2 separate regions of the Homo sapiens genome follow, and region 2 is linked to region 1. Evidence: fine-mapped expression QTL. Tissue or cell type: testis. Region 1 holds a variant in brackets; the other region holds the start of a gene. All regions are shown on one strand. Distances are between the middles of the regions.

The links. PIP is the estimated chance that this variant, and not a neighbour inherited with it, causes the effect.
Region 2: it holds the start of LINC03066, and the variant in region 1 is fine-mapped to the expression of LINC03066 in testis (GTEx, PIP 0.91).

Annotation. Positions count from the first base shown.
Region 1 is chr6:336,662-342,548 of GRCh38, forward strand. The region is part of intron 4 of DUSP22 (dual specificity phosphatase 22); the gene reads left to right. Among named protein-coding and RNA genes, the nearest start is that of DUSP22, 47 kb to the left of the region's middle. RefSeq lists a silencer at 2,339-2,538 and an enhancer at 5,518-5,787. The variant C/A (reference allele first, on the strand shown) is at 3,262.
Region 2 is chr6:202,389-208,275 of GRCh38, forward strand. LINC03066 (long intergenic non-protein coding RNA 3066) reads right to left here and starts at 3,096. Exons shown (of 8, transcript NR_126020.1): 1 at 2,499-3,096.

The DNA.
Region 1 (5,887 bases):
GCTGTGTTTCCACATGCACTCTTGATATTTCACAGAAAGGTGAACGTTTAAGATTGAGGATGGTGGAGGGGGGATTTTCCTAGGAAAACAGAGTAGCACTCTAGGCCTGGAAGGAGGAGAAGCAGCATTAGAGAACTTCCTTGGTTACTAGTCGTGTCAAGAAACAGAAGTGGTTGGAAGGCATGGTGCACACGGAAGGAAGTGAGCCACTGCCTTTCTCTGAAGACCATAGCAATCTTCTGCCCATGTTTTGGTGGCTATTTTTAGAATGGTTGCTTTGCTCTTATCTCAAACCGAGATTCTGACATGCTGTTGAACTTGTCAGTACCTGATTGGCAATTTGATTCTTTAGAAGAAAAACTCAGATGTGACCCACTCTGGGCTCTGGACATCTGCTGTCAGTGCAGGTGGCTACCTGTCCTTGAGCTGTCCCCAGTGCTTCTCAGCTTTGCTAGGAGCTGAGTGCTCTCTTGTCTGTGACAGTGACCTGATTTAAGCGTGGAGTGACCCCTTGCACTATAGACAAGTAAGTAGTAGGCGTAGATGTTAGAAAATCTCAACTGTAAAGCCAGTTACACCTACCTTGGGCAGGTCATTTTAACCCATCTACACCTCCATTCTCCCATCTGAAAATGCCTGCCCTCAGGGTTTTTGGAGGCAAGGGCATGTATGTGAAGGTGTTTTCTGCGAACTCTGAGCACTTGTAAAACTGAGTCTGTTTTCACTCAGCGTATATTAATGTATCTTGAGAGTTACAGAAAAGGTAGTTGCAATAACAAGTTTTGGTGCCCAGGAAGCCTGCTTCAGTTACTTGAGAGACCTGCTGACATGGAGGGACAGGGGAGACAGAGATATGCCAGCTTCTTCTCTGAGTTCTAGGTCTCGTGGGTCAGTTCAGATCATCTGTCAAAACCAGCCTAATTCCAGTCACCTTTGGTGCTGAAGGACTAGCCCATACTTTTTCTTTTTAAAATACGTATAGATTTAGGGGTTGCAGGTGCAATTTTGTTACATGGATATAAGGCTTAATGGCAAAGTCTGGACTTTTAGCGCATCCGTCACCCGAATAGTGAACGTTTTACTCTTTAAGCAATTTTTCACCCCTCACCTCCTCCTACCCTTTTAATTAGTTCTCTCCTATCCCAAATATGTGAAGAGGTCCTGTTAAGTTTATGGTTTGCTTTTGTAACTCTTTCTTTGGCTGGATGACTGGCTCTTGGCCTTTGATGTATCTGGATGACAAAGAGTTACAAAGGCAAACTAGAAACGTGGGTGGGCTTAGGGGTTAGGTAGGTGTGGCAGTGCCGTGTCTGGGGCTTGTGAGTGGAGGATGCGCCGTGCTGCACTCTCCAGTGAAGCTACGACAGTAAGACTTCTGTTTCAGCTGAAAAAGGAAGTCAGGACCGTAGCTCATGAAAAGGTGGGGAAAAGTGGACACTCTGCTGTTGGGAGTCATGCTCTTGTGTGATTTTTGGGGGAAACGTTTATTTTTAACCCATTAGTAACAGCAAATCTTGTGAATAAGTAAGGCTTCGACACACATATGTCCATGACTGTAAATATTGCTTGCTGTACTAAAGTTATGTGGAAATGGTGGAGCTGACTTCGGAACTTTGAGTGACTCAGCTTGTTAAGAGGCAGGCGATGAAATAGCTTGAGTTTCTTTTTACCTGTTACAAGTGTTCTACTGGAAGGCATAGTGTACTTTTTAATGGTGAGCATATTTTCACCATGTAATCAAATGATTCCCCTCAAGTTGGCAGGCAGAACACCTACCTCTCTCGGGGTATTTATTAAGGTGTTTATTACCAAGTATCAGGTGCTGACAATCAACTTTTGCTTTCTGTATCATCAACCAATGAGGATGGTCAGACGACAAATATTCGTATTTCTCTAGTTAACAAAAGCAAAAGAAGTCTTACCTGTCACTTGGAAACTGTGTTCTGCAGGACCTAAACAATTTGAAATAGTAGCTCTTTAGCCACTTAAAAAATTCTCGGTGCTTCAGAGTTTCTCTATTCAATGATAAAATAAATTCTGGAAAACTATGTTGCTCATTGTTTTAAACTTAAGTACAGATTTTAAAAATGAATGCCAGCTTTGATGTAATTTAACACTCTATATCTTAAATTTTTCCCCACAAATCCCTGCACGAACAGGAATTCTGGCAAGTTATGCTTAGTAAGAGATGTGTGACCTTTGAGACTAGCTGTTGTCACTTGACATTCAGTTGCTGCAGACTGCCCGGAAAGGTCAGTTTTCTGTCTTGGCCTCTATCCTCTCAAATCTCCCTCTCTGATCTTCCAGGAACTTAAAATGCAGAAACCTAGTTTGAGATAACATTAACATGTTAGAATTTCAGCTCAGTTCCCCAACCAGCTAGCCTTGCCAAGTCAGGAAATGTAAAAGTTCAAGTTCTCAGAGTTGTAATAACCCCACAGACCTACTGTGGTGTGTTTTGCATGATTTTGTCATGATTAGAGGCGTCCTAGAGTTTGTATCAAATGCACACACTGCGTGTTCCCCAAGTGGCCAGCGTGGTATGGGTTAGTGAATTAAGGGCTTTGGAAATACTCACTTGCTTTTGCTTTCTCTCTGGGATTTCTTAGAAAAGTCATTTTAACCTCTCTTCTCTCATCTGTAAAATGCCTATCTCACAGGGTTTTTTATAGTATTAGGTGAGATGATATAAGTGAAAGTGTTTTTTATGAACACTAGGCATTTCTGGAAATATGATTATATTTTCTGTCTATTCAAGTAAAGAGTATTAATATGTTTTGAAAGTGAATGGTTAGATGCATATTAACTTATATTTACTCATCTTGCTTTAATATATATTACATTGGCATTTTGTACTTTGACATCATGAAGCAAGTAATTACAGATTTTTTTTTTCTTTTTCTGTGAAGTCCAAGGGCATTTGATCTCTGCCAGGCTATGGAGTCGGTATACATCATTGCAGTAGCGCCTTTGTGACATTCAGTGGTTTTAGAATCTAGCAGGTCTGTAAATTTCTTGAGGTTTTTGTGGGGAGAAGAAGCTTTAGCAATACAGAGAGCCTATATTGAAAACATCGGTAAAACGTCCTTGCCTTATTCTATCTCCCTATCTTTTTGTCTATATTTTCTTTAACTGACACCTTCTGTACTTTCAACTCTCTTTTTCTCTCATTTACGTTTTTCTTTTATTTTATTATAAAGGAGCACTTTTGCAAGATGAGAGCTAGTTGGGCCCTTGGACTACTGTGGTCCTGCTTCCAGA[C/A]AGTTCCTGAGGGCTCTGCCAGCCCATAGTGATGTTCTCCTGCTCAAGGAGAAAATGAGAGCTGAAAGTGGCATTCAGTTTTCCATAAGACTTCATTTATTCCACTTAAAAGAACTATCGTTTAGTCTTAGATTATGTCCTTCTTTTTGTTGTTGAAATATTCTTCTGGGAAATGATGTTGTAGTAAGTGGTAGAGAGGCCCTTTGTTTTAGTTTGCTTTTAAAAAGCCCTTATCTGGCCAAATGAAAAGTACAATATATGCATCCCCCAATTCTATTTTTAATGTTGACAGTGCGTGAAATATCAAAGTTGGGGAATCACTGATACAAACGTGGGCTGGTTTTGTGTGTAATGCTGTGTGCTGATAGGGCAGCTCCACCATGTCTGTCTGATGAGGAACATTCTTCCCACTTACCTCTGGGTGGACTGGGGGCTTCACCATCAGCCTTCCAGCTGGAAAGCGTGCTGGGGCAGGGCCTGTGGGTTGGGGGCCGTGGACAGATTTCTGCCCGAAGAGGAAGCAGCTCTCTGTTATGAAACCACCTTCCAGAGCCTGGACCCAGATAGAATACTCTACTCATTTGCTATTAGAAAACAAGCAAAAACTTTTTTTTCTAAGCAAAAACATACATATTTACATATGTAATGTATAAAAATATAGATTTCTTATATATAAGGATGCTTGCCTTTTTTGGATTTGTCCTTTGCTTTCATTTGCACATACACTTTTGTATCATTTGCAGGAAGGAGGAGCACCCTGTGTCCCTGTGGCCTTGCTGCTGTTATAGCGTGGTCTGGTACCATGGGCTTTTAGGGTAGGGCCAGCTGCCATTCAAGGTGCTCAGCCAGATCTCTGGGCTCCCACTCCAACAGGCAAAGTCCTTTTGAGCAGGACAGGACCATCTTAGATCCTACAGTGGGGATTGAGGCCTCCAAATCTTGCAGTCCTGGAGTGAGAAGTAGTTGTTCAGCCTCAAAAGTGAACACCATGTAGTGTGATGTACAAGCTCATCCACCATCTTTTCTTAGACTCTCTGAAGGTCGGTAGAGCCCATCTGGGCACTGGCTCTTGGCCTTTGATGCAGAAAGGAAGGGACCCAGGCAGAGGGTGCTGGTCTGTGACGAGGGAGGGAGACAGCTGCGGGTGACTGGGCAGTTTGCGAGTCCCCTCTCCCTGGAGGTGCCCCTGCTGCAAGGACCGCGGGCAGGAGCGGGCATGATAGCCCCGGGCGCTGTTTGGTGAGTTTCTAACGCAAGCGTGGTCCGGTCCGTGCTTCCTTGTGCAGCATTCGCTGGCTCTCTGTGGACTGAGCCTATTCCACACGGCTGTGCGTGGACGTAAAGGTGAACTGCCGATGAAACGGAGAGCAGGAACAGGGAACTTGTGTTCATCGAAACAGCTTGCGGTAGGATAGTGCTTCAGACTCGCACTTCTGCTTCTAACTGCAGTTGAGCAATAGAAGGACCAGGACTGTGGGTATTTCCCACTGTGGAGGAGGGAGTTTAATGACCAGAGTTGGGGCTTCTGTCATCAGCTTCCCTGGAAATAACACCCCCACACACAGTCCTGCACCAAAGTGGCAGTGCGCTCGCCTGCCTCTGGGCTTTTCTTGGAAAAGGCATTTCTAGGAATATCTCTCTGGCTTGGCCTTGTGCCGAATTGTGTCCATGAGTCAAGCTGCACTGTGGGGCTCTGAGCGGCCGCCTTGTTGGCATCCTTCCGGCTCCTGGGGTGGCGCCGCGAATGGCCCTATCATGATGCCTGCACAAGGGCTACGCAGCCCAGGCCCCCAACATGGTGGTGGATAGGAGCTATGTCCTGTGGGCTCTACTGGACTTAACTCTTACTACAGACGGAAAGAGCTACCGGGGGGTGGTGGTGCAGAGTGGGGTCACCTCTCCATAACCTCCTCAGCTCCTTCACACGCCCACTCGGCTCTCTGGGCACGGATGGGTTTGGATGGTGCCAGGCTGAGCACACTCCCCTCTTGTATTTTGAGATGTGGCAAGGCTGACTCTTGAACCCAGGTTCAACCCCACAATATGTAAGAAGCCCGGTTTCATTGTGTCTGTGGTTGGGGACGTGCAGATGTCAAAGTGAGATATAAGAAGTGGTCCCCACTCCAAGGTTTCAGTGAAGGGATTCAGTTGTCATCTTTACAAGACCTTGGTGAGGTTCGTACAACTGAATGTGACCCCAATCCTGTCCCCACTCAGATGGGCAGCTGCTAACTTTCATGTTGCTGTGTGGTCTTTGCAGTGTGTTCTGACGTGCTCTGTGGTTTTTCATTTACTCAGGCGGTCGTCATTCATTTCTAGATTTGCTTTTGCTTTTTTGGCTGCTCTGCGTACAGACACGGCTCTTTCTGACCAGAAAGAGACCCACACAGAACAGACCAGCGTGGGCACAGCAGTCAGGGACAGCGTCTTGGCACCCTTGGGGGGCCACAGCAGCGTGAGCAGCCTGGGGGACCAAGGAGGGTGCCGTCCAGCTGCACCCCTGCAGCCAGCCAGTCAGCTGCCCCAGCCTGTGCACTGGCCTGTCTACTGCAGCCTGCAAGGAGGGCAGGCACCCAGTGTAAACCACCAGGCAAGTTGCAGACCAGCAGTCTGGAGCCACTTCTGG
Region 2 (5,887 bases), 130 kb before region 1:
GGCTATGTGAACTGAGGGTCCATGGCAACTGAACAACAACTCACAACTTTGTTACATAAAAGTCGAACCAGATTGGCCTGGTGTAGCTACCATAAGAGTAGGCAATTCAAAGAAGAATCATAAATGGCCAATAAGGATTTTAAAAAATTCTCAACCCTCCTGACGATCAGAAATATGCAAATCTGATAATAAGATACTCCCACTGATCAGATCAGCCAAAGTTAAAAGTATTCGCATTTGTGCACAACCTAGGGCACTGTGTGATCTGGGACCATTTGCATCAGAATCATCTAGTGGGCTTGTTTAAAGGCAGATTCCAATTGCCAAAACCTTGAAGGACCCAGATGTCCTTCAACTGGGTAACTGACAAACTGTGGTCCATCCATACCATGGAACACTACTCAGCACTAAAAAGGAACAAACCATTGATACAGACAATAACTCAGATGAATCTCATAGGCATTATTCTAAGTGAATGAAGCCAGGCTTGAATGTTACACACTGTATAATTCCAGACTTGAAAATAAAAAACCAATAGTGACAGAGAAAAGCCCTGTGTTTACCAAGGGAGTGAGGTGGGGTCAGGTGTGAGTAGAAATCGGTAGCTAAGGGAGCTTGTTGGGCTGGTGGAACTTTTCTGCATGCATTGTGGTGGTTACACAAATCCACTCCCTGTGCTAGAATTCATAAAACCCGCACACTCCACCACTGACCTCCACAAAGCCAAATTTACTGTGTAAAAAGTAAACAAACAAACACAACCCATATGAGTCCACCTCAGACCTAAACATCACAATCTCTAGGGAGGTGGGGCTGAGCTGATGGCTTTTCCTAACAAGCTCTCAGTGGTTCTCATGGACACTACGTTTTGAGGACCACTGGCTGGCATCACAATGGGGGTGAATGTGACTAGGAGGTTCTATCAAAACATAGAATGTGCCTACCCTCCACCCAGTGCTTGAACATCCCTTCCCCCTCATCACTCCGGGGAAGGATCCTGCTCAACACCCAACTACTCATTCAAACCTGGAACCCGAAACTTTAATGAAGGTTGCTCTACTGAGATTTTTCTCCCCACCGAACATGTCTGTGACCCACAAAGAAGCCCATGAAAGAAAGTGCCCAGAGAAACCAGAGCTGTGGAAGGCTGGCTCGACGGTGCCCCTCACTGCCCCTGAGAAAACAGACCCATTTCCTCTCTGCCCACCTCTTTCCCTGACATGTCCCCAGCAGCAGTCCTGTATTCCCAGTTCCTCTCAAGATGTTCTGAATAGTCTCTGGGTATCCTCTCATTGCCTTCAACTCAAGATATCTAAAACCAAAACTCATTGTCTTCCCACTCAAAACGTCCTCCCCTTTCTGCTGCCAACCCCAGTCAGTATTGTCTGCAGGCTTCCAGGCTTGGATCCTTGACTCACGGCCACCCAAGCTTCCTTCCCCCGTGTGCGATTAGTCAGTAAGTCTTAGTAGTGATGAGGGCTTCCTGCACCGTGACTGTCCGGCATGCTTTTTCCTCTCCCATTTCCTCAGCCACCAGCAATTCCAGGCCCCTCTTTACTTCGTATGTATTCTAGCGAGATCAACTGGCAAGACAAAGCTCAGACGTCACCTCCAGAAGGTTTTCATGGCTTGTGATAATCTGGCTTCACCTGTATTCTACTTCATGAGACAACTGACTATCTCGTGGCCTCTTCCCTGTGGCCTCCATCTCTCTTTGCAGCTCCAGTCCCTGGCACATGCTTGGCACACAGCTCACTGCAGCTGCTCAATGAGTTTTGTGGACTGGATGTTTGCTTGTGGGAAGTGGAAGCAGGGACCAGATGGATGGGCAGAAGGATTGTCCTATTCAAATATGCACTGGTGGTCCTGTCTTGTGTTTGGGCACCAGTTGAATCCAAGAGCTCTCAACCTGTGGAGTGTCGGATGAAATCTATGGAATCCCTCCTCAGAAAAGCAAATGAACCCACACAATGATGGCGCAGTTTCATTGTCATCAGCCTCCTGAGGCGTATCCACAATCACCAGGTCAGAAAACCCTGCTCCTTCCTTGCATTCAATTGGGCACATCACTATCAAATTAATTTTTCTGAAACACGACAAAATCTCATCAGAAATATACCACACTTTGTTGTCCCAAATGCTTGCCACCAGAAGTGTTTTGTATTTCAGATTTTTTGGATTTTGGAATCTTTGCATTATACTTACCAGTTTGGCATCCCTAATCCAAAACTCTGAAGTCAGATTAGCGATATTAAACCTGTACTAAGGAGAGCAATTCTGAATTTTTTGGCTTGGCAGCCACGGTTATTTTTGTGCCCCTCTAAATATACCTACTACCTACTATCCCCAGTGTGTAATCAGGCCATTGATGCCAGAGAGAGGTGTGAGTAGAATGATCACCAGTAGTGCCTGCCCTGAGAACGTGGCCACTGGTGCCCAGAGCAGAGTTGTCTGGGGACTGGCTGGAGGCCCATAGAGAGGCCCACACAAGAGCTCACCTGTGTTGACCAGCTCTCTTGCGTGCTCCAATTCCTATGCTGTTGCCTTGACTCAGCATGTGGTTCTCAGTGGGGTGATTCTTCCCTGCAGGTGACAAGTACTAATGTCTGCACACATTTACAACTAGGGAGGGAGTGCCACTGGCATTGAGTGGGTGGAGGCCAGGGATGCTGCTGAGCTTCCTGCATTGTACAGGACAGCCCCCACCACAAAGAACTTTCTGGCCCCAAGTGTGCATAGAAAAGATCCTGGTCTGCAGAGCCCTGTCCACCCATGGTCAATCCTGAAACTCTCCTTTGAGTCCCCCAGACTTTCCTGGGCCCTCCGGTCTTGCAGGATCTTCTCTTTCTTTCACACCTGTCCTTCCTGGGCAACATTTCTCCCCGACAAACCAGCGCCTGACCCTTGAGCAGGTCTCACCCAATCCTGCGCTTGTTTTAACCATATCCTTAGTTAGGTTCTAAGGTCATTGCGGGCAGGGAGGTTCATTTTCCTATAGGCCTGAGCACAAGGTCAGCGTGTGATAAATATGTGTTGACCCTCATAGATCCCTGAAGCACAGAATGAAAAATAAAATTGCTTAAATTTACTGATTTCAGGATATGGGAACAAAGGAATTGTGTTTAAATGTAAAAAAGAAGTTCTAGAATTTCCACAGAATTTACATTCTTCTTGTTGTAAGGAATATGCCTGGTAATGGAACTCAAATATCAGCTTGGATCGCCCTGGCCTTTGAAATTTGAGGTAAAATTAGGCTTAAGCCGTATCCAGCGCACAACAGAAACCTCAGTGTCTCCCACCCAGGGACTGTCTCGGAGGCTGTGTGTTCAGATGTCACTTCTGCCTCCCGGCATCTGCTCCTGAGTTTTCACTCTTCAGCCTCCCCTCCCAAGGCCTCCTTCCTACCCTGGCACTGGGCTTCTTGCCCCGTCCCCCTAGAATCCGTGGCACAGGGGCTTTATCTGTGTGGAGTCTCTACAGACGGTTAGAAACACAGAGTCAGCTAGAAATTAAGCAGTAGGCAGCTGTGATGTTTTTTGACAGCCTCATTTCTAAAACCCCTTCAGCAACCCCAGTCAAGGAGCTTCTCCCTCTAGACTCCAGCCTCCTGCTGAGTCACCTGCACCGTCTCTGCCTTCCTCCCCTTCCTCACATCCTCCCTGGCCCCATCTTCCAATTCCTCTGAACTTCTGCAGAGCAGCCAGCTCTTCCTCCAGCTTCAACTTCCCCACCCCAAGCAGGTGGGGCATCCTGACCCTGAGCAAAAGCAGTTCTCTCCCTAAGAAACACCGGTGACTTTTGTTCATGGCACTCCATGGATGCAAAGCTCTGAGTTCTGTTGAACAGGGACTCACCTACGAGTGGTGGTGCTATCAGCTGAGACGGGAAGCAGCACTCAGTAGAAGAAGAAAAGGCCTGGACTGGTGTGGGCATGCACTGGCTCGTGAGAAGCAGGGAAGGTCGCTCTTATGGGTCCCGTTTCTAAGTGACGTTCACGGCCTGGCTGTGTGTTGTCCAAGTGTTTTTCTTTCTTACCAAACCTTGGAGGTCTGGGAGCACCATATATGTCACACATGTGGGCAGGACTGGCCGTCGGGGCCGATGGGAGCTGCCTGGCGCACAAGTCCCTGGGGATGCCCATAAGTGCCTCACGTTGGCACTGAAGAAATGCAGACAGTGTGCCGCTTTGGGGAAGGCTTGTTGTTGCTGACTTTACACACACACACATATATATATACATACACACACACATATATACACATATATATGTATGTATACAGAGTGCTATAAAGTTATTCTTATTTTGTGAGTGATACAACCTTATTATTTAAAAATTAGGAAGAAAGTTAAAAAGAGGGTAAAACTCATATCTCTTCATGAGAAATGATCACTGTGACTATTTCAGCATACTTCCTCTGGCTCTGAGAAGAATCTTTAGGAAATAAGGAGCTTTTCATCTCCAGGGAGATGCCAGGGTCAGTTTCACCCCAAGGCAAAACCCTTCTCATTTTATGGGGCCAGATGCTGAAGATCAGAAACAGTTCGATCCTGCCCCGAGAAGGTGTCCGCCTCATCCTTGGAGTTAATGTGGCCACTTCCTAGGCAACTCAGAGGCTTTATGGGTCCTTTCGCCTCTTAAAATTAATTGAGTTATTCAGTAAATACAGGTTAAGCATCCCTAATCCAAAAATACAAAATGCTCCAAAACTGTTTTAGTACCAAAACGACCCTTAAAGAAGGCACTCACTGGAGCGTTTTGGATGTTGGATATCAGATTAGGGATGCTCAGCCAGAATGAATTCTGCAAATATTCCAAAATCAAAAAAAATTTGAAATCTGAAACACTTCTGGTTCCAAGTATTTCAAATAAGGGACACTCAACCTGCACTTAGTGAGTGATGCCAGGGAGTGGTACCAGTCACTGTTCTAGGCACTGAGGGTGCGTTGGAGACAAAGTGACAGCAACGTCCATGCTTCTTCCTCGCAGAGGACAGAGCCATGAGGAGGGAGAGTCTCTTCACTTCTCTGGGCCTTAGTTTCCTCCCCAGGCAAATAAACTGAGGAGGCTGTACCCAAATAAACATCGTCAGAGCTTAGGGGAATCATGTGGAGTGCCTGTTTGTCTTAAACACAAGCATTTCTTTAAGGTTCCTTAAAAAAAAAAAAGAAAAGAAAAGCTAAAAATGTTAATGACCTCTGCATTTTATTTTCTGGTATGTCCAGGTTTTTTGTTTTTGTTTTTAGACAGAGTTTTGTTCTGTCGCTCAGGCTGGACAGATCACGCAGTGGCATGATTTTGGCTCACTGCAACCTCCACCTCCCGGATTAAGTGATTCTCCTGCCTCAGCCTCCTGAGTACCTGAGATTACAGGCACCCACCATCACAGTCAGCTAATTTTTGTATTTTCAGTAGAGATGGGGTTTCACCATGTTGCCCAGGCTGGTCTTGAACTCCTGACCTCAAATGATCTACCCGCCTCAGCATCCCAAAGTGCTGGGATTACAGGCATGAGCCACTGCTCCTGGCCATATGTCCAGGTATTTTTAAATATAAAAACAAAATTTGGCCAGGTGCAGTGGCTCATGCTTGTAATCTCAGCACTTTGTGAGGCTAAGGTAGGCAGATCACCTGAGGCCAGGAGTTCGAGACCAGCCTGGGCAACATGGTGAAACCCCGTCTCTACTGAAAATACAAAAATTAGCCAGGCCTGATGGCCCATGCTTTTAATCCCAGCTACTCGGGAGGCTGAGGCAGGAGAATCACTTGAACCCAGTAGGCGGAGGTTGCAGTGAGCCGAGATCACACCACTGCACTCCAGCCTGGGCAACAGAACAAGACTTCATCTCAAAAAACAAACAAACAAACAAACAAAATAAACCCCACAAA